2 linked regions of the Homo sapiens genome follow. The protein of the gene in region 2 purifies or fractionates together with the protein of the main gene of each other region. This does not show direct contact. Each region holds a gene or a part of one and is shown on either strand. Other genes may lie near its edges.

The links.
Region 1: the proteins of CDIN1 (region 2) and CABIN1 purify together in Homo sapiens (affinity purification with mass spectrometry, with the first as the bait; one large-scale study listed by BioGRID). This does not show direct contact.

What each region holds. Positions count from the first base shown.
Region 1 is NC_000022.11:24,014,304-24,017,803, reverse strand, and holds part of CABIN1 (calcineurin-binding protein cabin-1), read right to left. Parts: intron 1-3,500. UniProt on the Homo sapiens protein: May be required for replication-independent chromatin assembly. May serve as a negative regulator of T-cell receptor (TCR) signaling via inhibition of calcineurin. Inhibition of activated calcineurin is dependent on both PKC and calcium signals.
Region 2 is NC_000015.10:36,582,626-36,586,125, forward strand, and holds part of CDIN1 (CDAN1-interacting nuclease 1), read left to right. Parts: intron 1-3,500. UniProt on the Homo sapiens protein: Plays a role in erythroid cell differentiation.

The DNA.
Region 1 (3,500 bases), on a different chromosome or scaffold from region 2:
AAAAAAAAAAAAATGGTGAAAGCAACCCAACTGTTCATGACAGATGAATGGCTAAACAAAATGTAGTATATACATACAATGAAACATTTATTATTCAGCCTTAAAAAGGAAGGTAATCCTGACACATGTCACAAAAAAGAAGGCAATTCCGAAATATGCTACAACGTGGATGAACCTTGAAGACATTACAGTAAGTCGAATAAGCCAGTCATAAAAAGACAAATATTGTACGATTCCATGTATATAACGTACCTACAGTAGTCAAATTCATAGAAACAGAAAGTAGAATAGTGGCCACAGGGCTAGGGGAGGGAAGAATGGGAATTCCTGTTTAATGGATACAGAGTTTCAGTTTGAAAAGATGAAAAAAGTTCCGGAGATGGATGGTGGTGATGGCTGCATAACAATGTGGATGTATTTAATGGCACAAAATGGCACACTTAAAAAATGGTTAAAATGATAAATTGGGTCAGGCGCAGTGGCTCACGCCTGTAATCCCAGCACTTTGGGAGGCTGAGGCAGGCGGATGAGGAGGTCAGGAGATGGAGACCATCCTGGCTAACACAGTGAAACCCTGTCTCTGCTAAAAATACAAAAAAATTGGCTGGGCATGGTGGCACGCGCCTGTAGTCCCAGCTACTCGGGAGGCTGAGGCAGGAGAATTGCTTGAACCCAAGAGGTGGAGGTTGCAGTGAGCCGAGATCGCGCCATTGCACTCCAGCCTGGTGAGGGAGACTCCATCTCAAAAAAAAAAAAAAAAAAAAGATAAATTGTATGTTGCTTATATTTTATCACAATTTTTTTTAAAAAGCTAAAGAACAGAAAAACAAAAACCTGGTAGACAAATGGAGAAAAAATACGAACAGATAAATCACAAAAGAAGACGCAACTAGCTCTAAAACATATGAAAAAATGTTCAAATCATTCATAGAGATATGCATATTAAAACAAAACAACACTAGACACTATTTCTCACTGCAAAAATTAAAGCATGACAGCACACACTGTTGGCGAGGTTGTGGAGAAACAGGCGCTATTCTCATACACTGTTGGAAATTGGTACAACCCTTCTGGAGGGAAATTTGACTATATCTGAGAAAACTACATATGCATTTACCTTTCAACCCAGCAATTCCACTTCTAGAAACTACCCTGAATATGTACCTCCAACAATACAAAAATACATATGCACAGAATTATTCACCGTGCAGCACTGTTTGTAACTGCAAGATAATGGAAGCAGCTTAAATGGCCATAGATAGGAGAGTAGATGAATAAACTATTATAACGTACTATGGTACATACTATGGTACATTCATGTAATGAAGTACTATGCAGCTGTAAAAATTAATGAGGCAATGTTCATAGCAACATAATTCAAAATAATGCATAAGTAGAAACCCAAAATCCATCAACTGATAAATGGATAAACAAAAGGTGGTATATCCATAAAATGGAATATTATTCAGCCATAAAAATAATGAAACACTGACAACATGGATGAACCATGAAAACATTATCCTAAGTGGAAGAAGCCAGTAACAAAATACCACATATTGTATGATCCCATTTACATGAAATGTCCAAAACAGGCAAATTTATAAAGTCAGAAAGTGGATTTGTGGTTGCCTAGAGCTGGGGGAAGACAGGATGGGAAGTAACTGCTAATTGCTAATGGATCAGGGTTTCTTTTAAGGGTGATAAAAATGTTCTAAAATGTATTGCGATGATGCTTGCATAACTGTGTATGTACTAAAAACCACTCAATTGTATACTTAAATCGGTCAATTGTAAGGTATGTAAATTATATCTCAATAAAGATGTTTTTGCTTGTTTGTGTTTTCTTGAGACCGGGTCTCGCCCTGTCGCCCTGGCTGGAGTGCAGTGGCGCGATCTCGGCTCTCTGCAACCTCTGCCTCCCGGGTTCAAGCGATACTCCTGCCTCAGCTTCCCGGGTAGCTGGGACTACATGCATGCACCACCATGCCCAGCTAATTTTTTTTGTATTTTTAGTAGAAAGGGGTTTCACCATGTTGGTCAGGCTGGCCTCAAACTCCAGACCTCAAATGATCTGCCCACCTCAGCCTCCCAAAGTCTGGGATTACAGGCGTGAGCCACCATGCCTGGCCTCAATAAAGATGTTTTTAAAAATTAATGAGGGGCCGGGCGCAGTGGCTCATGCCTGTAATCCTAGCACTTTGGGAGGCTGAGGCGGGCGGATCACAAGGTCAGAAGATCGAGACCATCCTGGCTAACACGGTGAAACCCCGTCTCTACTAAAAATACAAAAAATTAGCCAGGCGCGGTGGTGGGCGCCTGTAGTCCCAGCTACTCGGGAGGCTCAGGCAGCAGAACGGCGTGAACCCGGGAGGCGGAGCTTGCAGTGAGCCGAGATAGCGCCAATGCACTCAGGCCTGGGCAAAAGAGCGAGACTCCGTCTCAAAAAAAAAAAAAGAATGAAGAAGATCTCTATGAACAGATATGGGGTGATTTTCAAGACACACTATTCTTTTTTTTTTTTTTTTTTTTTTTTGGAGATGGATTCTCACTCGGCCGGTCACCCAGGCTGGAGTGCAGTGGTGCAATCTCGGCTCACTGCAACATCTGCCTCCCAGGTTCAAGCGATTCTCCAGCCTCAGCCTTCCAAGTGGCTGGGATTACAGGTGCCCACCACCACACCCGGCTAATTTTTTTGTATTTTTAGTAGAGACGGGGTTTCACCATGTTGGCCAGGCTAGTCTTGAAATCCTGACCTCAGGCAATCTGCCCACCTCAGCCTCCTAAAGTGCTGGGATTACAGGCATGAGCCACCACGCCTGGCCTAAAACATACTATTAAGTGAAAAAAGCAAACACAATTATCTATATAGCATGTCACCTTCGTATAAGAAAGAAGAGGATGTGAAAAAATACACAACTAACTGTTCACTTGTGCGAAAGAAACACGAGATAATCCAGATACCAAAGTTAGCTATACAGGGTAGGTGGGAAAGCGGTGAAAAGAAGGGGTGAATGGGAACAGGGCAGTAGGCATAAGAAGGGAAAGACACTTCTCTGAGTATACCTTTGTGTGTAGCTCTGACTCTCAGAAATCAGTCATAATTCATACCGCAAAAACAACTAAAATCAGCTAGGATGCAGGGGGAACTCAAAATGAAATATAAACACTAACAATGAACCTAACTATTACAACTAACATAACCACTCTGAAAGGCATGAGGAAGAAAGGAACTAACCTAAGTAACTGTAGAAAATGGTATCTTGACTGGATAGGCTAAAGACAAAAAGAACTGATTCCAGAGTTGGGTCAGAGAAAACACAAGATGAGCCTGGAACACCTTGTGGTGTGCCATAAAGTAAGTGCTTGAAGGAAAAAAAAAAAAATGAGGGCCAGTTGATAGGCCACAGAAGCTAACCTGAAGGAGATCCTAACTAAATAGCCAATGCTGGAACAGTAAGCAACAAAATAATGATGATAATGAATTTTAACTCATAGAATAT
Region 2 (3,500 bases):
TGTTGACCCTGTAGACCTGTGAGAGGGTCTCAGGGACTCCAAGTCCACAGCCACACTTAGACAATCACTAGCTAATTCAAATCAAAGCATAATTATGTTTTCAAGGATTTTGATGTATACTGACAAATTTAAAAAAATTGTACTAGTCCTTTTACTAGCAGAGCGTGAGAGTCTCTGTCTCTGCAACTTTTCCAGTATTGAGAAGAGTCATTATTTAATCTTTAATATGTTCGATCAAGAATGACATCTTGTAGTTAGCATTTTAAAAATTATTATAGGTTGTACCTTTTTCCAAATTTTTTTGACCACTTAATTTTCCTTTGAATTACCTGTTTGGTATCCTTTGCCTAATTTTCTGTTGGCATGTCTGTTGTTATTGTTTATTGATTTATTACTTATTGATCTGCATATGTTCAGGATGCTGGTCCTATATATGTCATATTTGTTGCATAAATTTTCTCAGTTGTTTGATTTTAAATATTGTTCTGCTTTTGATATGGTTAACTTTTAAATGTATGCTTTTTTTTTCTGACATTTTTGCCTTTATACTTAGGAAGTTCTTTTCTGTCCTAATATATGAAAGAAAAAAATATTTCACCTAAATTTTCTTTTAGATTCTTTATGGCTTTGTTTTTTATTCTTAATTTTTAAATCTTTCTGGCTGAAATTTATTTTAGTAAATGCTGAGAGGTGAAGATGTAGCTTAATTTTTTCTCCAGCTTAATTTTTCCTCTTACTGTGACTTCTGGGGTAGCCTCACTTCTTCATGGCTTGTTTTGACTGAAGTTACAAAATTATGTTTTTTCAAGTCACTGTGTTTTACGTGGTCTCAGAATCCTTCACTTTAAAATGAAGGAGTAGGACTTTGTGATCTGTAATATCTTACAACTCCAAAATTCACCCTCATTCTATTTTCGTTTCTACAGTTTTACCATACAGTAAGTCATCATTTAATGTCTTCGGTAGGGCTTTGGAGACTGCAACTTTAAGTGAAACAATGTATAATGAGAGCAATTTTACCATATGCTAATTGTTATAAACAAGAATTAAGTTCCTATAGCATATTTCTGGTCATAATAACATCACCAAACTTCTAAATAAAGACCCAAGGCTGGGCACTGTGGCTCAAGCCTGTAATCCCGGCACTTTGGGAGGCTGAGGCGGGCAGATCACGAGGTCAGGAGATCGAGACCATCCTGGCTAACACAGTGAAACCCCGTCTCTACTAAAAATACAGAAAATTAGCTGGGCACGGTGGCGGGCGCCTGTAGTCCCAGCTACTCAGGAGACTGAGGCAGGAGAATGGCATGAACCTGGGAGGCAGAGCTTGCAGTGAGCTGAGATGGCGCCACTGCACTCCAGCCTGGGTGACAGAGCAACACTCCGTCTCAAAAAAACCATAAAAAATAAAATAAAGACCCAAAACACATCTAATATTAAACATTGAAATTAATGTGAGCCTAAACAAGTAAGATAATTATTTACCCAATTTTTGGTGAATCAGTGAGTGATGGTGGTCATAGTGGTGGTGGATTAAATCTAAGAGTATGTGTTTGCAAAGTGAAATTTGTGAGAAGCACCTCTTACCACCATGTATTCAAAAGCAAACAATAGCCTGTTCAACAGAGCGAGACCCTGTCTCTTCAAAAAAATTTAAAAATTAGCCAGGTGTGGTGGTACATGCTTGTAGTTCCAGCAACTCAGGATGCTAAGGTGAGAAGATTGCTTAAGCCTGGGAGTTTGAGGCTGCAGTGAGTTAGGAACGTGCCACTGCAGTCCAGCCTGAGCCACAACAGTTAGACTCTGTCTCTAAAAACAAAAAACAAAAAGCAAACAATAACAAATGTGGTGAGCTTGCTGAGCACTTGTGTACTGCATCTTTATTGTCATGCGTTTGTATGATTATCATAGATTTATGAATTTTTATTTTACAGTAATTTGTATTCATTCATTTATTCACTTATTCATTCATTTATTTACCAACCCGCTTATTCCAGTTTAGGATTCTGAGTGGCCTCTGGCAGCTCAGGCTGCAAGGTATGAAGCCATCCCAGCACGGGACACGCTCACACACACTCCCATACTCACTCACACTGGGGCTATTTAGACATGCCAGTTCTGCAGACACGTACATCATTGAGATGTGGAAGGAAACCAGAGTACTGGGAGAAAGTTCACGCAGACGTCAGGAGAACATGCAAACTCCACACAGACAGTGGCCCCAGCCAGGAAACAATTTTTAAAAATACTCATCAACTTTATAACAAAATAATGTTGAACAAAATAACGTTATTTGAAGACTTTCTGTAATGGGCCCTTTGGCACCTGAAACATAGGACATACTACATTTGAAGTACTTGCTGAGGACATATTTATTGATTGACATTTTTTAATCTTTCTTGTGGACATTCTTAGAAGCCCCTGGTCCAATCAGCTGTTACTTATAAGGTTATATTTTACATTATAATTTCCTGCCCAAACACTACATATATATTTGATTATTTGTTACTTTTGGGAGAGTTTTTGGGATAATTTTAAGCTTGCAGAAAAGTTGCAGAAATATTACAGAGAATTCTCATATACCCTTCACCCAGCTTCTCTTAATGTTAACATTACCATGGTACGATTGTCAAAATCAGTAAGTTAATTTTAATGCAATATCATTAATCTACAGACACATTTTTTGAACTTTGCTAGTTTTTTCACTGATGTCCCTTTTCTAGGATCACACGTTGGATTTAATTGTAATGTCTTAAGTCATTTCCAATCTGTGACAGTTTCTTACTATTTCTTTGTCTTTTATGATTTTGACACTTTTGAAGAGTACTGGTCAATTTTATAGAATGTCCTTTCCTTTGTGTTTGATGTTTATTTTCTCATGGTTAGATTGAGGGTAAACACTTTTGGCAAGAGTACCCTGGAAGTGATGGTGTGGCCTACTTAGTGCATTACATCAGGGTCTGTGACTTCATATGTCTTATTATTGGAGACGTTAACCTTATTCACTTGATTAAGGTGGTGTCTGCCTTGGTTTGTGCTCAGGAGCTGGTAGTTCTAATGTTACTTTTATTATTATTATTATTTTTAAATTCTGAAGCTCTTTAATAGCTTTATAATCAACAAATAAAACTAAAGGTGTTTTATAATAGGAAAATAATTTTGTGATATATGACAATGGCATTGCTTCATAAGGACAAGAAGAAAAATTGGAAGTGTACAGTAGAACTAGTATGTTTTACTATAGAGTCTTACATATGTATTACTTGAGAGTGGAAATATAACCATAACTTGCTAACCTGTACTGTGACTCACAAAACAGGCTCTACCTGACCAAACTACAATTACTGACTAAACCTGAACTCTTTTATCATGAGCTCATTCAGCCTTATGTGCTCAACCCATACTCATAAACTCTGTTCCAGAAACTGCCTAGTTGACAAAGTCTGACCAACATCTAGCAGGACCACCTCATGACTAGTTCCGGCTCCTAGAACCTTCGA